4 separate regions of the Homo sapiens genome follow, and all the other regions are linked to region 1. Evidence: fine-mapped expression QTL. A gene starts in region 1. Each other region holds a variant in brackets. All regions are shown on one strand. Distances are from middle to middle.

Region 1 (5,152 bases):
CAAAGCATCCTAGACTGGGTGGCTTATGAACAACAGAAATTTATTTTTCACAGTTCTGGACGCCAGAAGAATGAGATCAGGGTGCCAGTGTGGTTGTGATGTGGGTGGGAAGGCCCTCTTCCAGTTGCAGACTGCCATCTTTTCTTTGTATCCTCAAGAGGCAGAAAGAGGGTGAGAGAGCTCTCTTGGGTTTCTTTTATAAGGGCATTTATTCCATCACCTCCCAAAGGCCCCACCTCCTAATACCATCACATTAGGGGTTAGGATTTCAACACATGAATTTGGGGGAGCACAAACATTCAGTCCACTGCAAATCGCTTGAGATTAAAATATCTTACTTTGGAAGCTTTTATAAAAATATAAGACCACATGAACATGTCTCTCAGGCTCCTTCTGTGTTGTTGGAAGAGGGCTGGAGTATAAGTTTCTTGGAATCTGCCTTTGGGTTTAGCTTTGGCCATATGCTTTAGAAGGAGCAGTCACAAACCTTGGCACATCTGTAGAAAGGAAGTAACCTAGGATGATGAAGGGTCAGGACACATTGCCATGTGTCCTGCATGACTTATGGGTCATGCAAAGATCTTGGAAAAGAGACAATTCAAGTGGTTCACAAGTTTGTCTTCAGTGCTTGGAGTACTCTCAGGTGGAAGAAATATTTCAACTCAATATAAGGGATCACTTCCTAATGTCAGGCCAGTTTCAATGCAGAATTGACCAGCTTGTAAAGTACTGAGTTCTCTTTAAGGGAATGGCTCCAGGAGAGGATAAGTGAGACCCGGTCAGAGATCTTGTGAAGGAGAGTGGTGGTGATGACGAACGGGGAGTGCAGTGTGAAAGAACCTACCTAATCTTTACACACCTTTGCAAGTTTGAGATTTTTAGGATGACTTTGCTATTAATGTTCTTTGATGCCTTAGTCTCGGTTTTAATGGTCGATATGTAGAAAGTTTTAAAGGTAGTAGGGGCTGCTTTTAAAGTGAGAGAAAAATGTTTTTTAAGACCTAGGGCAGCAATAGTGATTCACTTTGCCTCTATTCATTTTTAGGGTTCTTCTTTCTCCCTCCTTTCCTCCCTTCCTCCCTTCCTCCTCTTTTCTTTTCTTTCTTTTTCTGTTTTTCTTTTCTTTCTTTCTTTTTCCTCCTCCTCCTCCTTCTTCTTCCTCTTCCTCTTCTTTTTTGACAAGGTGACAGGGTCTTGCTCTGTCTTCAAGCTGGAGTGCAGTGGTGCAATCACAGCTCATTGCAGTCTTGAAATCCTGGGCTCAACTGATCTTCCTGCCTCAGCCTCCAGAGTAACTGCGATTACAGGTTCAGGCCACCATGCCTGGCTATTTTTATTTTTATTTCTTTCTTTATTTAATGTATTATACTTTAAGTTCTGGGATATATGTGCAGAACGTGGAGGTTTGTTACATAGGTATACACGTGCCATGGTGGTTTGCTGCACCCATCAACCCATCATCTACATTAGGTATTTCTCCTAATGAGATCCCTCCCCTAGCCCCACAACCCCCGATAGGCCCCTCCTCCCTGATGTGATGTTCTCCTCCCTGTGTTCATGTGTTCTCATTGTTCAGCTCCCACTTATGAGTGAGAAAACGCAGTGTTTGGTTTTCTGTTCCTGTGTTAGTGGGGTCTCACTATGTTGCCCAGATTGGTCTTAAACTCCTGGCTTCAAGAGATCCTCCTGCCTCAGGCATGATTACAGGTGTGAGCCACTGCACCTGGCCCATTTTGACTAGAATGTAACATAGTGGTTAATCAACACAAAGAAGCTAAGGATTGCAGGTGTGGGGTTGCTGGATTTGAGTAAGTTGTGAAGGAGAACATCATGTGGGAACAAACCTCTAGGATCCCTGTTCTTCCAGCAAGAACTGGAATTGGGCCTTTTGTGGGGTGGGGCTCTTTGATTCTGTGGAGGATCCTAACAGTGATGCCTGGGCTGATAGATCCAGGGGACTAAGAAGTCAGGGCTCCTCTGAGACATGTGACAAAACACAGCTGACACTGACTTGAAATAAAAGAGAGAGGATTTATTGGCTTCAAGGGTAGAGTTCACTGCAGACACATCTACCTCCTGAGGTTCCTGAGAGGGTGGGACATCACCCTCTCACCAGCAGCTTTTCTTCCCTCAAAGTTGGCTTCATTGGCATGCACTGTTGGTCCTTGTTACCGTAGGCTTATATCCTTCCAATTTAGTTATCCTAGTTTAAAGAGCTTATTTTTCTGCAGTAATACATCCAAAGCCCTAGGCCGAGTTCCTGGATCAACATGCCCAACCCAGAACCGATCACTGCGGTCCGGAAGATGACTGGCTAGTTCTGGGGGTTGAGGGTGGGAGGTGTCAGTACCCTGGAGCCACAAAGACTCATTGTGGGTGAGGGGGAAGGGCAGTTCCCATAGGAATAATGAACTGCTGTTACCAGAAAAGGCGGAGAAATGGATAATATTGAGCACACACTCAAAAGTCCCAAAGGAATGGCTATCCATTATTTGGGGACTTACTCCATATGGATATAGTTAAATTGTAAAATTGAATAAATCTTCCCTAAATCTGGACAGATGCAAGGGTGGGTGGGGAGGGACACAATATATTTACACTTTAGCATTTTTACTTTTTCTCCTACGTGGGACTGGTTGATGAAGATGCTATAGAAGTAAACAGAAAGCCGAAAGTATTAATACAGTAATTTTAAATTTTAGTGCCCTCTTTAGGCAAAGTATCTGGGAACGCTTTCAATAATCCATTTTTTCATCGTGACCACACCCTGTGTGTGCGACATGAGTATTACCGTCTTGCCCTTGCAGTTGGGGAAACCGAGGCATGACACTCCCCTATTCAGCTTTCTGGTGGGGTTGAGGAACAGTGTTGTCTGCACGACCTCAGAGGGTCTCCTCCACCCTCCGCGACACCTCTAGGAATCCTCCTGTCCTTCGACTTCGCAGAAGGAGAGCAACTCAGGCTCCGCCGCAGCCTCGGGACTCGTCCTCCGCCCAGCCGCACCCGCCCCGTTCTTCCGCACCTTCCTCAGGGAGGTCCCGCTGGCCAAGGTCTGGCTGTCCCTCCTGTCCTCTGCCCCCGCCTCCCTTCCACCGGTCCCCGACGTGCCGCCAGCTCCCAGCCCAGCGTCCCGCAGGGCGGTGCGGGCAGATGCCGCCGAAGCGTCTAGCGGGAAGGGCGCCGGCGCGGCTGGAGGTGAGGAGGCCGGACTCTTCGCTCTCCGCGGACCGGGGCACCGCGGCTGGAGCGGACGCCCGGCACCCGGGCGGGAGGAAGGTGGCGGCAGGGAGCGGCGAGAGGGTGGCGACGCAGGCGGGTCGGCGCCTGGAGAGCGAGCGGCGGGGAGCCGGGCGCTGCGGGGCCGCTCGGGGCCGCGCCGCGCTCGGCCACAAACCTCCCGGAGGCGCAGGACCCCCGGCGCCCTCCCGAGCGCGGGCGGGAGCCATGGCTTCGCGCGTCCCCGCTGCCGCTGCTGACTCGACACAATCGGCGGGTCGCGCGGGGGCCGTGGCGTAACCCGGGGGTGGGTGGCGGCGCGGAGCCGCCTCGAGAGCTCTGGGTGTCGCTGGGAGCTAGGAAGATGCCAGCACAAAGGCGAGCCGAGACCCAGCCCGCTGCGGAGGGCGGCGGGAAGAGCCGCTGAGGGGCGCGCCGAGCGCGCTCTGCCCCTGCGCCGCGTCTCTCCGGGCGCTTCTCGCGGTCTCGGGGTCGGGGACTGCAGCGCAGAGACTCTCGGCTCCGTGGCAGCGGCCGCAGCAGCCGTGAGCTGCATGCAACGCGCGGCGGCGCCCCCGGCCGCCTGCTTTCTCCTCGGCGCGCACGGACCGGCCGCAGGGCGCCGGGGCCGCGGGTCCGGGCGACTTTGGGGGCGCCCTCCCGCCCCGCGGCCGGGTCCCCACCCGCAGCTTGTGGCGACGGGCGCAAAGCCCAGGTGAGCGCGCGGCCCTCGCCGCAGGTAGCGGACGGCGGGAGGTGGCTTTGTTTTTCCTCCCTTGCGCCCCGGCGCGGTCATTCATTTGCCATTTCGGTTTCCGCTGCCCAGGATGTGTTGGATGGTTTGGTTCTCCAGGGAAACTGGGACTTTGGGGTCTATTTGAGCATCAGTTGAGGGAGAGGACGCTTCATTTCCTTTTTGGTTGGGAATGTGCCGTGAACATCCTCTGCTGGAGCTTGGGGCCTGGAGCAAACTGGGGCTGCAGATTTAGACGTAGACGTTTCCGAGGACGCGAGACTGCAGAGGTCTGACTCTCTCATGCCTTGTCTTCACTATTAGCAGCGCTCGGGTGCTTTTCGTCGTTTATTATTATTAATTTAGAGAACATCTTTACAGGCACATTTCTTTTAGAGTTAGAAGTCTTTGGAGTCAGTACAGAGAGCTCACAATTAGAGTTACAAGGGTTCAATCGATATTAAACTTCAGGAAGGAAAACATTTGTGATCATTACAGATAGAGGTGGACAGCATGCAAACTTCGGGGGCCTTTAGCTTTTGGGTTATGATTTCTGCTTTCACTGTCCTAGACTCACGCAAACTGTTTTCGTATATATATACCTTTGTGAAAGTGTGAAACTTGTCTTTTCTGGAGTAGTGTTCTATAGTTTGTCATTTAGAAGAAGAATATTTTAGTGTAATTAGTAGAGCTCTCCATGTGTTTGTCTTATAAATATGATTTTCTTTTTACTATTTCTCCTATTCCCTCGAGGGTTCATTTCTTCTGTTGCTTTGAGAGAGCTTTTTTTCTTTCTCTTCCCAACAGATGGCTGTATGTTCCAAGAGGTTATCTTTAAAATGACACACACATTATCTACAAAGAAAGAAAGATCAGTTATTGACTTTATCTTTGGAGTTATTAAAATAAAAGGCCTAATCTGGATGGGGATATTATTAATGGCGTGAAAATCTGGAGTTTGCTAATCTGTTTGGTCATCAGAAGATTCCTGCGGGGATTGTTTATATAGCGTGGGAGACAGATGGCATCCCTAGCAGACTAGAGAAGCCAGGCATAAAGGGTCATTGTATTCTTCAGAAATTATCCACTTCACTATTAGAGGTGGGGTAGGGTGGGGTGGAGGGTGGCAAAGACATTTTGATCTCTTAAAGGAGACACTGTAACGTTACTATCCAGCAGTCTAACCAGCTTTAATTTTTCTTT
Region 2 (5,152 bases), 350 kb after region 1:
ACAACAGCTAACACTTACGTGGGATCTCTTATGCAACAGTCACTGCATAAAGTGCCATAAACACACTAACTCAGCTCATCCACACGTGTGGCCCTGAGCTCTCACCCCAATTCCAGCCCTGTATTTTTCAGTCTCTAGGGCATTTTGTTAGCTGTCATATCCAAGTCAATATGTATAAAGTTTCACATGCCCTTGTCCACCTGCATCACTTCCCACACTCTTCATAGCATCAGGTAGATAGACTTGGCTCAAATCCCAAATCTACTGTCACTGGAATATGACTTGGACAGGAAACTGCACCTTCATTTTCTTTAGTTGCAAAGTGGTGTGTGATGGTCCTAGTAATACCCGCTTCGTAGACTTGTGAGGATTTCTCAAGATCCCCTGTGTAACGTGCATCATCTGTAATGTACAGCAGGCGCTTAACAAGTAAGACCTGTTGTTATTGTTTAAATACACTTTATATTATCATCATGCTTCCCATTCTTCTTTCTTGCTTATCTATTCTTTTCCCAGTGCATATTTCACATTGTAGATGTTTCTCTGAGTCACTCACTCCAGTCTAGTCCTTATCCCCTCAGGCTTCAATTACTGCAACAACTCCTAACTGGGGCTCTTTCCTCTTGCCCACCCTTAATTTACTCAACACACTCTGAAAATAATTTCTTAAATAAAACACCATTTGTATGTTATTCTTCTGCTCAAGAACCTATAAAGGCACTGTTCACTGCATCATGCCCAAACTCCTCTGCTAGGTTTTAAAAATTCTTGTCATAATTTGGCTCCAACCCTTCTGATCAATTTCATTTCCCATTTACTCCCAGCACTCCTCCTCCACTCTAGGCTAGCTTGGTTCTCTTGGTGTCTTCTGAACACACATGCAGTGCTCATGCCAGCTGTTGCTGCTGTGTTCCACTTTAGGATATAAATTCTCCTTCTTTTGCAAGGTGTGGTTCCAATTAAGCTTCCTCCCTAAGGCCTTTTCCACTTTGATCTCTACTTATACTCATTTCTTTTTTATAACATTACTATTACTTTTGTGTAACACTGATCTTAACAAATGCTTGCGGGGCTTGGGGGGCAGGCAGCCATGTCATTGAGTGGCTGCCGCAAAGTGGTGAGCTCATGCCTCGTCTAACAGAGTAGCTGCAGCTGCCCGCTGGATCCCCAAGGAAATGCAAGCCAGTCATTGCAAGATTTCCCAAATAATTTTCAAGAGAAAAATCTGGAATTTTTAAATTTGAAATTTAATTTGTAAATGTTGGCAATTAATTTAAAATATTCAAAAAAGATTATGGGGCAAGCAACTGGGATCTATAGGACTAGGTATAGCCCCAGGGGTATAGCTTTGTTTCCTCTGCTTTCTAGTCTGTATACCTAGTTCAGGACTTAATTATTCTCTAATTGTTTGATGTTTTATTTCTGTTTCCCCAACCCACTCCAGCAACCCCACCTTACTCATTTTGGACATCCATTGGTGAACCTAACATAGTATTCCCAATGAATAACAACTATTTAGTTCACTCATTTGTTAGAGACATTTTTAATGAACTTACATGGTATGTAATGAACAAGACTTCCCAGCTTTTGTTTTCTGGTTTCTTTCATTGGTTGGGAAATATTTAGTGGAAATATCCAGTGTTTTTGTCATGGCTCTGTGTCTGATTTCCATATTCATCATCAGTTTTCTATCCCAACCTGCTGCTTGTGTTACCCAGTGACACAAAACCAGATTTTTCTATGGAAAGAGGAACAATTGGCTGGGCATGGTGGCTCACGCCTGTAATCCCAGCACTTTGGAAGGCCGAGGTGGGCGGATCACCTGAGGTCAGGAGTTCGAGACCAGCCTGACCAACATGGAGAAACCACGTCCCTGCTAAAAATACAAAATTAGCTGGGCGTGGAGGTGCAAGACTGTAGTCCCAGCTACTCGGGAGGCTGAGGCAGGAGAATCGCTTGAACTCAGGAGACAGAGGTTGGGTTAGCCGAGATCACACCATTGCACTCCAGCCTGGGCAACAAGAGCAAAACTCCGTGTCAAAAAAAAGGAAAGAGAAACAATGTTACTTTTACATATTATTAGTGATAATTACCATTGAATAACGTATAAAATATGCTTATATAATCTAGATATTCTCAGTACTTGGCACATGTTAAGAATGCAATAAATGGTCTGGCGCAGTGGCTCACACCAGTAATCCCAGCACTTTGGGAGGCCAAGGCAGGTGGATTACCTGAGGTCGGGAGTTCAAGACCAGCCTGACCAACATGGAGAAACCATGACCCTACTAAAAATACAAAATTAGTCGGGCGTGGTGGCACATGCCTGCAATCCCAGCTACTCAGTAGGCTGAGGCAGGACAATCACTTGAACCCGGGAGATGGAGGTTGCGGTGAGCTGAGATTGTGCCATTGCACTCCAGCCTGGGCAACAAGAGCGAAACTCCGTCTCAAAAAAAAAAAAAGAATCCAATAAATATTAATATTATTTATTCTTTGTGCAAGTGCGCACTTTGTGCAAGTGAGACAGGTGCCTTTTGCAATTATGTGTTATATTAAGATTTTACCCTGCAATATGAGATTTATGTAATTATGTGTCTAAAATCATTCTTGGTGATAGTGCATATCTAAAAGAAGTTTTGTAGGCCAGGTGCGGTGGCTCACACCTGTAATCCCAGCAATTTGGGAGGCTGAGGTGGGTGGATCACCTGAGGTCAGGAGTTCCAGACCAGCCTGGCCAACATGGCAAAACCCTGTCTCTACTAAAAATACAAAAATTAGCTGGGCATGGTGGCAGGCACCTGTAATCTCAGCTATTTGGGAGGCTGAAACAGGAGAATCACTTGAACCCAGGAGGCGGAGGGTGCAGTGAGCCAAGATTGCACCACTGCACTCCAGCCTGCTGGGTGACAGAGTAAGACTCCGTCTCAAAAAAAAAAAAAAAAAAAAAAAAAGTTTCATGAGGAGT[T/C]TTTTGGTGAGGAATTTAGAGTGAATGATTAAAACCTCACTCTTGGTGCCACTTACTTATATACCATGTACTTTCCATTGCAACTTCCTGTCTAATTGCCATGATATCATTTCAGCAGCAAGCAAAGACATTTCATCCTAACAGTTACTACTAGACATGAGTAACTCTGTTTGACTCATATTAGTTTCGACTGAAAAGGGGAACATACTTGAGAAACACATGGGCACCATTGTAACTATTCAAACAGAATTTTTATTCTCAACCAAAATGCCACAAAGAGGACGTCACTTAAGACCTTGGTTGAGGTTTGTTATATCCTTCAACTTGCAGAAATCAAAAATGCAGAAGTTAAGACAGTTGCCTCATTTGACTTGTTGATTGTGATAGCTTTTGTCCATGGTGATGTGATGAACATAAGGACGAGGCACAAATCCAGATTGTCCTCTCTTTGTGGTTTGCTGCAGGTACCCAGCGTGCCAATGCCCGGGCTCCAGCCCCTTACAAGCGGGATTTCGAAGCCAAACTGAGGAACTTTTACAGGAAGTTAGAGACTAAAGGATATGGACAAGGCCCAGGGAAGTTAAAGTAAGTCAAAGTGACACAAACCACATAATGTATAGATGGTGAAAGGAGAGGGCACAGTTGGGCCTCTAGGAAATTGATTGTGATTTGGGATGACTAGCCTTCATTTTAGTCGGCATAATTATTTTGGAATTTGTAAATTATAGGATCATCTAAAACATAGTCCTGGAATGAAACATGATTAAGCTTAACATTTTAAAACAAATAGTGAAGACACTGCCACTTTTCATGCAAAAATAAAGGCAAAATAAAAGGCTGATTTATTTTTTTCCTCTGAAAAGTATGTCTTTGTTGGTGCATAGTATATTCATTAGCTATAAAGCTATCCCAATGTCCTCCACTGCAAGTTTCTGTCTCCTGAACTGACCTGAGTGTAGGAATAGTGCTCAGCTCTGTTCAGTTCTGTGAAACAAACTTCACAGCAGAACATGTCATGAATGTTGTTTCGGCCTTTCTTCATCCATCTCCTCCTTTCAAATGGGGAAACTGAAACATCATCATGTTGTTTGGCCTAGAATTGTTTCCATTCCCTACTTACCCTTCTTTCTCTCCTCCCTGCCTTCACCCCTGTCCCACGTCCCCACTGGAGATCAGTCTGCCACTGAGAGAGGACAGAGGAGGGACGGTCTCCACTGGAGCACCCCTGTGACCCTGGGTGCCTGAGAGACGGTCCAGAGACCAGACCAACAGCAGCCCCATGGCTCACTGCCCCACCTGCAGGAAGGCTTGCTTGATTAAAATCCACCTTCATTGCCCTAAAAAATCATCTGCCTGCCCAAACACCATACTTCTCTGAGCTTTACTTTTCTCACACTTAACTTACAAAGGTCTAGGATGATCCAGCTGTCATGCATTCAGCCTCCCTATCATCTCTCTGCCCATTACCATTTACATTAAGAGCAAATTGATATCTATGGAAGGATGACTTTAATTGGCATCATCACAAGTAGATTAACCTGCCACACTCATCATTCATTTGTATCTGTCCCTTAGGGACTGTCAAGATTCACTTAATTTAACAATTAACAATTGGAAACTCCTCTGCTTTGGAGGATATTGAGAATTTTTTTTTTCCTCTTTGTTCTCACAGTCATCTTGCTGGGCACTTAATAATTGAATTCCTTGTCTACATGCATTGAGACTTAAAACATTGCCTCATAGAGTTGTTCTTGCTTTACTAAACAAAATGTATGGGCGGGGGGCGGTGTGTGTGGTGTGTGTGGTGTTGTTTTATGATCATTTTTTTTCTGGGATAAACTGATTTGACCATTTAGATAGGATTCTCCGGTTGTTTACACTGGTCATAGGTAGGGTACTCTACCAATGATTCTCTCATGTAACTTTTGCTAATGCTATTAAGAGTTCAAGACAAATGTGTACTTTATTGCAGACAGCAATGATATTAAGTAACATTCTTCTTACCTAGTTAATTGTGGCAAATGGAAATGTTCTAGAAAGATAAGTAAATTATCTTTAATAGTATAGTAATAATTTGTATTTTCTAAATTGTCTCTTTATGGACAGGTTAATTATCCGAAGAGATCACTTACTAGAAGATGCTTTTAATCAGATTATGGGCTACTCCAGAAAAGACCTGCAGAG
Region 3 (5,152 bases), 370 kb after region 1:
ATATGAGAATTTACCTTATATAGAATGCAGTTTTTTAAAGTCCACACTACAGAATTTTTTAATTGGCATTTATAGAATGGTGGCTGGGCACGGTGGCTCATGCCTGTAATCCCAGCACTTTGGGAGGCCAAGGCAGGAGGATCAGTTGAGCCTAGAAGTTCAGGACCAGCCTAGGCAACATGGTGAAACCCTATCTCTACAAAAAATACAAAAATTAGCCAGGTGTGGTGGCACATACCTGTAGTCCCAGCTACTCAGGAGGCCAAGGTGGGAGGGTCACCTGAGCTGGAGAGGTTGAGGCTGCAGTGAGCCTGGATCATGCCACTGCACTCTAGCCTGGGGGACGAGAGTGAGACCCTGTCTCAAAAAAGAAAAGAAAAATAAAGAGAACCAAAATTGATTTTTTTGAAGCTAAGGGAACATAAACAATGTTTTGGGGAAGACTTAAGAACAGAATATATTAATTTTTTTTTCAAAATTGGTGGAAGAGTAGGGAAAACGTTTCTTCCAGAAATTATATACCAGTTTATAATTAATATTCTTATTTAGGCATTAATCTTTAGCTGCTTTTCTGCATTCCATGTGTTTTGAAAAAGTTCTCAATTTAACATTCACTTGAGTGTAATTCTGCTTTAAAGTAAATCTTTACGCTAGATATAGTCAATTCTGAGAAATTTGTGAAAATGGGTTTTGTCAAACATTCAAATAGTAGCAGGCTAGTATCTGAAGCCGATTCATCGGCATTTTAAAACTTAACCTGTAGTAACAGCAATACATATATATACTTTAATCACCAAAGCTTTCAAGCACCCCCTCAATGCCTATTTTTTCCTGAGTGTGTGTGCTCCGTGAGTGCCTGGGGCCTCACTGCCAGCTTGTGGGATGTGCCTAGGGCAGGGCTGGGACAGGTAGCTGGCTGATTTCAGCTCAATGCTAGTAATGTTGTTATAACATTAAGAGTATTGCTTTGTAGTCATTCTTTTTATTTTGTAATCTCAGATAACTGAACGAGAATTAAAGCCAGGGGGTGCCAATATCCCAGTTACAGAGAAGAACAAGAAGGAGTACATCGAGAGGATGGTGAAGTGGAGGATTGAGAGGGGTGTTGTACAGCAAACAGAGAGCTTAGTGCGTGGCTTCTATGAGGTAAAGACAATCAGCAGTAGGAGGAGTTTGCAGTCTGATATCAATGATGCCACAGTCCATCTTATTGTACTTTACATGTGTAGACTATTTCTGCTGTATTTACTGTTGCTCTTTCCATGCGAAAAGTTCAGTATTTTTTCCCTTATGTTTCAAGAGCACCAAAAGAAGCTTAACTCACTGTTACGAGAGATCACTGAAATAAATGTTATGGACTGCATTCAAGTAGCATTTGTTGATTTAATGACCACTAGTAACATTTAAGCCATGCATCTTATGCTTAGATATGGGTAATCAAATCTCATGCTTGCTATGTGAAATAATTATATCTGAGATCAGAATGAGTTGGCATGTATTGTATGTGACTTTTTCTGTAGAAACACTAGATAGTTTCCTAAAGGTGGACGGGACCTAGATTAATCAGCAATCAATTATAAAACAAAAATTCTGTCAAGGCAAATCTCATCAACCTTATACTAAAGAATGCCTTATATTTGTAGGGAGCTTTACAGGTTTTCAAGTGCCAACACAAGGTACACACATATTATTCCTGAAACTCCATGTGTCCCCTTTTCTAAGGCTTAATTATAGCTGATATTTCTCCAGGCTCCTAAGCCATGCCTTGTACTCTTTTTATTCCACAGGTGGTGGATGCCAGGCTGGTATCTGTTTTTGATGCAAGAGAACTGGAATTGGTCATCGCAGGCACAGCTGAAATAGACCTAAGTGATTGGAGAAACAACACAGAATATAGAGGAGGTGAAATTTGATTTATAGATGGCTAGATTTTAAATTTCAAATTAAAGGAAGGCATGGTTCAGCTTGCCAACTGAATATAGGACAGGCAACAGCACTTGGACTCTAATCATAGGTCTGATGCAGGCTCCCTTGAGACCTTGGGCAAGGTACATTCTCTTCTTTTCCTAATTACCTCATCTGTCAGATGGGAGAAGGACTGTTTACACACCGTCAAAGGATGTCATAACTCTTAATTGTTGGTGAGGAAATGTGACCGTAAGAACACTAATTAATTACTTTATCGTGTTGTCAGTGAAGCACCAAGGAGCTAACATCCAGCTGGTCAAACTCCACCTATTCCATTTTGTTTCTAAAACTTAGAAAAGCACACCCTTTGAGCTTCCCAATCAGCACAGTTTTTCCACTGTTCACTACGCTCCTTATCAGTTGTAATTCATAGTCAGAACACTTGAATGGAATAAGACACAGTTCCCAAAATACAACATTATTGGAGAAGTTCTAAATTCAAGCATGAATTTCAAGTGAAAAGAAGACTGTAGTAAGATTAATTAAAAACTGCACTATCTGACACTTCACAAAATGGGAAGCTAAAAAAGTGACACTTCTGCAGATCAGTACAAATTATTGATTAGTAACTGGGACCAAAGCCATTGAAATTTGAGTGTTAAACCAACACTTTGCAAGGGACCTGGTGGTAACCCAGAGTTAAGGTTTTATTAAATAATTTTAAGCAAAGAATACATTTTCTGAAAATTATCACCATGTTAGGAAGCCTTCAGAAATTCATGACAAATACCAGTTGTTTTCTCCTTTGGGTTTTGTTTTTTAACTCAAAGTATAAGAGATTAGAAGTAGTTCTGAACTTGGAGAATGAAAACTACAAACCTAACATCACTGAATTAATCACTTAGCAGAGTAAATTGAGAGCTGAACAGTTCTCTAGTTATCTCTAAGTTGAAGCAGAGATTTTTTTTAAAAAAGGTAGTTTTAAAAGTTTGTAGTAAAAAAATGCCTTAACATTTGCTAAATTGCTTTTGGTTATGCCTGTGCTTGCCTGTTCCAGCTCATCCCTGCACCATGGGCTGGCCTTGCTCACACATTTAATCTGAAAGGCTGTATTTAATTGCAGTTTCCATTGCTTCTATTTCTGAAGTCCAATTGCTGAAATAAGTATTTTCCAGTTGGCCCAAGTATAATCCATGTATCTCTTTGGTTATTATAATGTTGTTAACCCATC[G/A]ATTTTTACTGAGAGCACAATTTCTCTGACATGCTACATAAGTTATATTTTACCATAAATATTATTAGCTCATTCTTTCCTTCCAGGAGATGAATTTTTTTTTTCAGACAGAGGGTGTATGCCACCATACCTGGCTAATTTTTGTATTTTTAGTAGAGATGGGGTTTCACCATGTTGGCCAGTCTGGTCTCGAATTCCTGGCCTCAAGCGATCTCCTGCCTTGGCCTCCCAAAGTGCTGGGATTACATGTGTAAGCCACCACGCCCGGACCCAGGAGATTCTAATAGCAATGCATTAATAGAATCAGCCATTTTTGTATTTTCATGGCATAAAATTTTATTCACTAAATCTGACTAATCAAGGACCTATTTATATGGTTATTGTAAATCTTATCAAATGAAATCTTTGGGAGGGGGAAGAAAAATGCTGAGAACCTCAGCTGCCATGTTTGCTCACCCAGCTACTTGGCACTGAGTAAAGAAGCGGCTGTGTGGCTGCCACCTGCCATATGTTCACACCCCAGCTGCTAGGAGAGAATATGATGAGACACATTCACTCTTCTTCCTCCAAAAGGTTTGGCACAAATAGCAAAAGGGAAGCAGAAAAGGGCTAATTCATAAGGTCAAAAAACTTTAAAGCTACAAAGAGCCAGTGCACTTCTTTTGTAGATGAGAAACTTTGCTCAGTACCAAATTGCTAGTCTTCACCAAACTCTGGGCATGGCCCATGTGTCCTCATGTTCAATCCAGTTTTGATCAGCCTTCTCTTTGATCCTTTTTTTCTCCAAAGGGGACTAAACATCACTGAAATGGTAAACAGTAAGGTGAGATTCCTCCCAAATCCTACAACTACTGAAATGTGAGGAAAAATTTGGATTAAAATAATTTCTACCCGCCTTCTATTCTGGACTACTAACTCAGTGCCCATTAACTATGTCTATTCATTGGTTTGAATCACTAAATCCTTGTTAGCCTTTTCTCTGAATTTAATTTTTGTTTTCACTGAAAGGTTTTTGGAATCCATCATCACTGCCCATGAGGTGATTCCTTTGACATTTTCTTAAATTCTACTAAAGTATGGAATAAGAGTAAAATTAAGTTGGTGATTACTCAGGATTTATTTAAGGAACTAAAGGTCACTTTTCCCTTTTTATTAGTAAGTCAATGTGAAACTAAGTTGATTTTAAAGTATGAATATTATATATAGCTTTTAAGAGAGCTTGCAGTTATGTATTTGTTTGTATAAATTATTTGATTAATGTGTCTCCCCTCTGCCAGAAGCCCTGGGAGGGTCTGTTTTCTTTGCCATTATGCCCCCAACCTTGGTACAGTGCTTGGCATAGAGGTATTTGAAAATTATTTCTTATGTGAATGACCGAAAGAGTTAAGTATTTCCAGTAACAACTGTTGTATTTTACAGAAATGATATGGTTAAAATAACTCATTTGTTGTTCTTCTCTTTACTAGTTTCACTTAGTGACCGTTAAATGAAAACAGAGACCTCTTGGTTTCACTTAATGTTGTTTTTGTTTAACTTTTGACATTCATATGATCATATATACAGTGTTATTCCTTAGTCTTAAAATTATAGACAACTTGTAAAGAATTCAAGAGGATGATTTATGTCTGGGGACTCTTCGTGTCACGTATCTTGGTGGCTTAATATAGAAGAGTCAAAGTAACATGGGCTTTTATGATTGGTTTGATAGGATACCATGACAATCATATTGTAATTCGGTGGTTCTGGGCTGCAGTGGAAAGATTCAACAATGAACAACGACTAAGGTTGTTACAGGTGAGATGCCATTATTTAATCTTTTAAATGTATCAATATGATTATTGTTGGAAGTGTATGTTTTTAATAACTGCTAACTATTCTCCATAAACACATACCATGTGTATCTGGAAATATGAGATACACCATTTCCAGACTCCTGATTGCATGGTTATGTGACTCCATGGCTATTCAGAACTTCCCTAAGCCAACTTAAAGCATTTCATGAGAGTTTAGGGA
Region 4 (5,152 bases), 390 kb after region 1:
CATAGTTTGAAGAGTTTCTTCTGCTAGTTACCCCAGATACAGGAATTCCCCCCTATGGGAATATTCCACTTTGTATTTACAGATCCAAGTGCACCTTAACCAAAGTGACCTAATGAGACTTTGGAATAAGACATTAATTAGTGAATAGATTAATTCCCCTCACCCGTCTATAGATACTCCTCATGGCTTTACTAAGTGCCGAACCTTGTGGGAGATATACGTTGACCTTAAAACACAGGGAGAGAAGCAATGGATATTTACATGAACAGATAACCAACATCATTGGTCCCAAAATGGAACATGACCAATGAGTAGTTGGAATAGCAAGCACCATAGAATTTCTTTCCATGAATTCACCTTTACCGAACACCTGGTGAAGGTCAGGGCATTGTGCTCTGCTGCCATAAGTTACACACATATTTGTGCCCTACTCTTAATAGGAATTTCTGCTCTAAACCTCATGGCCTAAGAAGGTATTCATGAGGATATTAGATAAATTATGAATATTTTAAAAATTCTAACAAGTTTTACCATTAGTTGTGTTAATAAAGCTACCCAGGCTAACAAAACTATAACTGGATTCCTTTAATGGAATTCGATCACTCTATTTAATTGGTAACTTTGGATTTCTCATGCTGATTTCACGCCCTTGAATTCATCATCTGTCCCTCTACCCATTTCCTATATTCCCTGCCTTATTTAAAGATACCTCTGCCAACCCACTTTTCTTTCTTTCATCCATGAAATAACTGGAAAAGGTTTTTGCAAGAACACTCCTGGCTTCCTGATGTGTCCCTGCCTCCCCATCTGGCCTCAGGTCCAACCTTGCCTCCTGTCCCTTAGGCGCTTGCCCCTCTCAGGTTTCCTGATGATGCAATGTCATGTTCCATCTGCTGGGAACATCCTTCTCCTTGTTGTTGATTCAGAGAAAACCTGCACACCTACAAATCTTTCAAGCCTTGGCACAGATAGTGTCCTCTATGAACCTTCCTTGGCTCTGCTGAGCAAACTTGTAACTCATAGTATTATTAACTGTTTGTATGCAGGGCCACTAATAGCCCATCTTTGGGACTAATGAAACAAAGGTGTCTCCTAGCCTTTTGGAGAAATGCAGCCTGCAGCTAGGGCTCACAATTTGGCAAGCAGAGCCAAAGGAAGGCTGGATTTCAGTTCCTGCTTGCCCCAGAGCACAGGATACACAAACTTTAGAGGGTCTTTTTGCCTGTATATTTTGCTGCCACAGTGTAAACTCCTTGAGGACAGAAACCAGACTTTTCATCCTCATCTCTCAGAGGACAGCTGAATCCCTGGCATGGAGTATATGCTTAGTAAGTACTTATTCAGCGAGTGAAGGAATAAATGAAATATAATGCAAATTGGAAAATTAAGTACATTCACATACAGAGAGAGAAATTAATCAACAAACCAATCTATGGAAATGGAAATGTAACTGATACTTTTGGCTCACTGGATTTATCTAATTGACTTGTCTATCTGTAGGGAAAAAGGGAGGGTAAGCATGTGACCTCCTGATTAACATTTTTGAAGAATCCAGAAAGCACCAAGAGATCTATTAAGTCAGACCAGATGTCTGGAGAATTTTTAAATCTTCTTAATATTGATGCCAGCATGATTTCCCAAAGATGGGTTCAGACCTGCTTTCCTTGAGTGGTTCTGGCTAAATAGATTAAAATGAGGTAAACCCATTATAGCTTTAGTGTGACTGGCTTTGAAAGATTTGAAAAATGTTCTTTTATTGAGACTGAATAGCTGGATGCACTTTTGCTGCCAACATCAACACAGTCCAGGGCCCTCCTGTTATTTTCTGCTAAAGTTTTCTTAGGACATGGAATGGGGTGGGAGTGGGGGTGTGAAAAGCCTCCAAGGATTATGTGTTGCTTGCCATTTTTTTTGTTTTTTTCCTGGCCTTGGCTCATAGAGCAAGTTGATGGTAAATATTGGGCAATTTATTTAACCACACTATTCCTCAATTTCCTTATTAGCAATGCTGTCTTGTTTATAAGGAGTTTTGAAATTTCTGCAAGCACATAAAACACTGGTGCAAATAGCCAATGTAGGTATCATGTTGCTAATCCACTTGATGCCTCTCCAATAGTGGAGACCACCTGCATCAGACTCACTTGGCATATTTATTAAAATGCATATTCCCCCAGGCCCACCCCAAACCTTCTGAATTA[C/A]AATCACAAGGGGTGCAACCAAAAATCTCCATTGTAAAACAAGCTCCTGGAGTGATTTTGATACACTCTAAAGTATCCTTTTGAGTATTTGCCTTCTTCTATTAAGCCTGAGATTGAGCTAGATGGTATGATCACCTAAAAATCCCCTGGTATTTTTCAGGGTTTTCTGGATTGACTCAATCTCAGCCATTTTCCCCAGAGCTACTGCATATTGTGATTGAATTATTCATTTAAAAAATATCTGAAGCTTTATTTTGCCAATCCTTGTCCTCAAAATGTGGATAATCTAGTAGGATGTTGAGGAATAATAGTTCGTAGTCAGAGGTAGGATAAAATTAATACTCAGGCTTCCAAAAGTAAAAGAATGAAGCCATGAGCATTAATCTCCCCGCTTTCAGTTTAATGTTGGACTTTCCCTAGGAGACCCAGAACTGAGGTCCTTTTCTTGATTTGGCCACTGACTCAGCTTTGACCTTGGGAAAACCATTTAATCTTTCCACACAGTTTCCCCCTCCACAATATATGCTTTCCCCATCATCGCGAAATATTTTCCAGAGGAGCTGTTTAGTTTATTAGAAGGAAAGTTGTGTTATGGTAACCATATATTATGCAACCAGATGTAATTTATGAAGCAGCAATAGCCTTAGATTATGGATTAGTAATGCTGATTATGTCTTACGACTGCAGAGGAACAAAAAAGGTTGTCTAGTCCTTCCCTTTGCCTTCCCTTTGTGTTGAGAACTGAAAAGAGTATTTAGGCTTGTGGATTTACTGGATAAGCTTCTAGAGTACCTGCAAAGATACTACAGAAATGGCAAAGAGACATTCAAAGTTCCTGTTTCTCTACTCAGAAACCTGGGAGAATGAAAGAACTGTTGCCAACCCCTAGCTTTGTTTCACCACCTGTCCTGGATAGATGATTCTACTGTATCACACTTAACATCACATTTGCCACCTTTTCTTGAACTGTTTCACTACCTTGAGACCTGTTACTGGTTCTACTGATGCAAAACAAATTACCACAAATTTAGCAGTGTAAAACAACACACATTTATGATCTCACTGTTTTCATGGAGCAGGCATCCAGGCACAGCTTAGCTGGGTCTTCTGCTCATGGTCTCACAAGGCTGAAATCAAGCTGTGGGTGGGGCTGCATTCTCATTTGGAGGACCAACTAGGGAAGAATCTGCTTCCAAGTTCCCTTGGGTTGTTGGCAGCATTCATTCCTTGCAGCTATAGAATTCATAGTAGCTTCCTTCTTCAAATTCAACAACAGTGAGAGTCTCTCTTGATTTTAATAAGAAATCCTAAGGCTTTAAAAGGTGAATGGACTTCATACCCATTACAATAGCTATTATAAAACAAACAAACAAACAAACAAAAAACAAGAAATAAGTGTTGGTGAGGATGTAGAGAAATTGGAACCCTTGTGCACTGTTGATGGAAATGTAAAATGTTGCAGCCACTATGAAAAATGCAATATGATGTTGCACTTCTGTGTATATCCCCCAAAAAATTGAAAAGGAGGACTTAAACAGATAATTGTACACTCATGTTCATAGGAGCATTATTTACAATAGCCAAACGGTAGGAAAAAAACTCCTGTTCATTAATGGATGAATGAATAAAGAAAATGTGGTATATACATACAATGGAACATTATTCAGCCTTAAAAAGGAAGGAAATTCTGACCCATGCTACAACATCAACCTTAAAATATGCTAAGTGAAATAAGCCAATCACAAAAGACAAATATTTTAAGATTCCACTTATATGAAGTACATAGGGTAGTGAAATTCATAGAGACACAAAGTAGAATGGTGGTTTCCAGGGGCTAGGGGGAGAGGAAATGGGAGTTACTATTTAATGGATACAGATTTCAGTTTTGCGAGATGCAGAAGTTCTGGAGATGGATAGTGATGATGGTTGCAAAATAACGTAGGTGTACTAATGCCATGGTACTGTGCACTTAAATATAGTTAAAATGGTAAATGTTATATTATGTATATTTTATCACAATAAAAATACTGAAAAGTTAATCGGGCAAGAGAGATGAACATATGGATCACAAAACAGGAAATGTAAAAAGCAAGAGGACATGGGGGAAAGATGCTCAACCTTATTGGTAACCAAAGAAATGAAAATTGTAAAATAGTATTGTGGTGTCATCTGTTAGTCTAATAGGATAATAAATGTTATTTGTCTGACACACACAGTTTGGCATAGAATTATATTCAAAACGTATTCTACTTTTCTGCTTCTTCCTCCCCTACCCCTGGAACAGAGATAAATCTTTATTTAATATTTTTATTCCAGTGTTTCACAGATGATAGATTATAAACCACTGCTAGGACTCTAGTGTAGTATACAAGTTGAATTTTTAAATAAGTAAAACCTTTTCTTGAGGCTCAATTTGCGTTCCAGTCTAAGGATATCAAATGCAATTCTGAAATGCTTATTGTATCAAAAAAGGGTTTGCCTGCAAAGATTCATTAGATGATTTCCACCAATATATCCCAGAGTTTACAGTACTAGGAGTGGGTGAGTCGGTACTATCTCTATACCCTAAAACTCATACAGTTGGAGTATCCCTAGTCAAAAAATTTTAAATCTAAAATGCTCCAAAATCCAAAACTTTTTGAGTGCCAACATGATGCCACAAGTAGAAAATTTCACAACTGACCTCATATGACAGGGTGCAGTCAAAAACGCGGTCAAAACTTTGTTTCATGAACCAAATTATGTAAATATGGTATAAAATTACCTTCAGTCTGTGTATACAAGGTGCATGTGAAACGTAAATGAATTTCATGTTTAGACTTGGGTCCCATTCCCCAAGATATCTCATTATATATATGCAAATATTCCAAATTCCAAAGAAATCTGAAATCCAAAGCACTTCTGGTGCCAAGCATTTTGGATAAGGAATACTCTATCTGTATTCTTACAATATA

The links. PIP is the estimated chance that this variant, and not a neighbour inherited with it, causes the effect.
Region 2: its variant is the best candidate, but not a certain one, in a credible set for the expression of HECW2 in blood mononuclear cells (TOPMed, PIP 0.61).
Region 3: its variant is the best candidate, but not a certain one, in a credible set for the expression of HECW2 in whole blood (INTERVAL, PIP 0.89).
Region 4: its variant is the best candidate, but not a certain one, in a credible set for the expression of HECW2 in whole blood (TOPMed, PIP 0.56).

The regions. Positions count from the first base shown.
Region 1 is chr2:196,591,551-196,596,702 of GRCh38, reverse strand. It overlaps HECW2 (HECT, C2 and WW domain containing E3 ubiquitin protein ligase 2), which reads left to right and starts at 3,149. Exons shown (of 29, transcript NM_001348768.2): 1 at 3,149-3,195. RefSeq lists silencers at 3,191-3,460, 3,541-3,920.
Region 2 is chr2:196,240,485-196,245,636 of GRCh38, reverse strand. HECW2 (HECT, C2 and WW domain containing E3 ubiquitin protein ligase 2) reads left to right here. Exons shown (of 29, transcript NM_001348768.2): 20 at 3,433-3,553; 21 at 5,075-5,152. Among named protein-coding and RNA genes, the nearest start is that of HECW2-AS1, 17 kb to the left of the region's middle. RefSeq lists an enhancer at 4,379-4,428. The variant T/C (reference allele first, on the strand shown) is at 2,969.
Region 3 is chr2:196,216,789-196,221,940 of GRCh38, reverse strand. HECW2 (HECT, C2 and WW domain containing E3 ubiquitin protein ligase 2) reads left to right here. Exons shown (of 29, transcript NM_001348768.2): 25 at 1,000-1,146; 26 at 1,788-1,902; 27 at 4,848-4,933. Among named protein-coding and RNA genes, the nearest start is that of HECW2-AS1, 41 kb to the left of the region's middle. RefSeq lists a silencer at 2,189-2,389. The variant G/A (reference allele first, on the strand shown) is at 3,140.
Region 4 is chr2:196,202,765-196,207,916 of GRCh38, reverse strand. All of the region lies in intron 28 of HECW2 (HECT, C2 and WW domain containing E3 ubiquitin protein ligase 2), which reads left to right. Among named protein-coding and RNA genes, the nearest start is that of STK17B, 34 kb to the right of the region's middle. The variant C/A (reference allele first, on the strand shown) is at 2,199.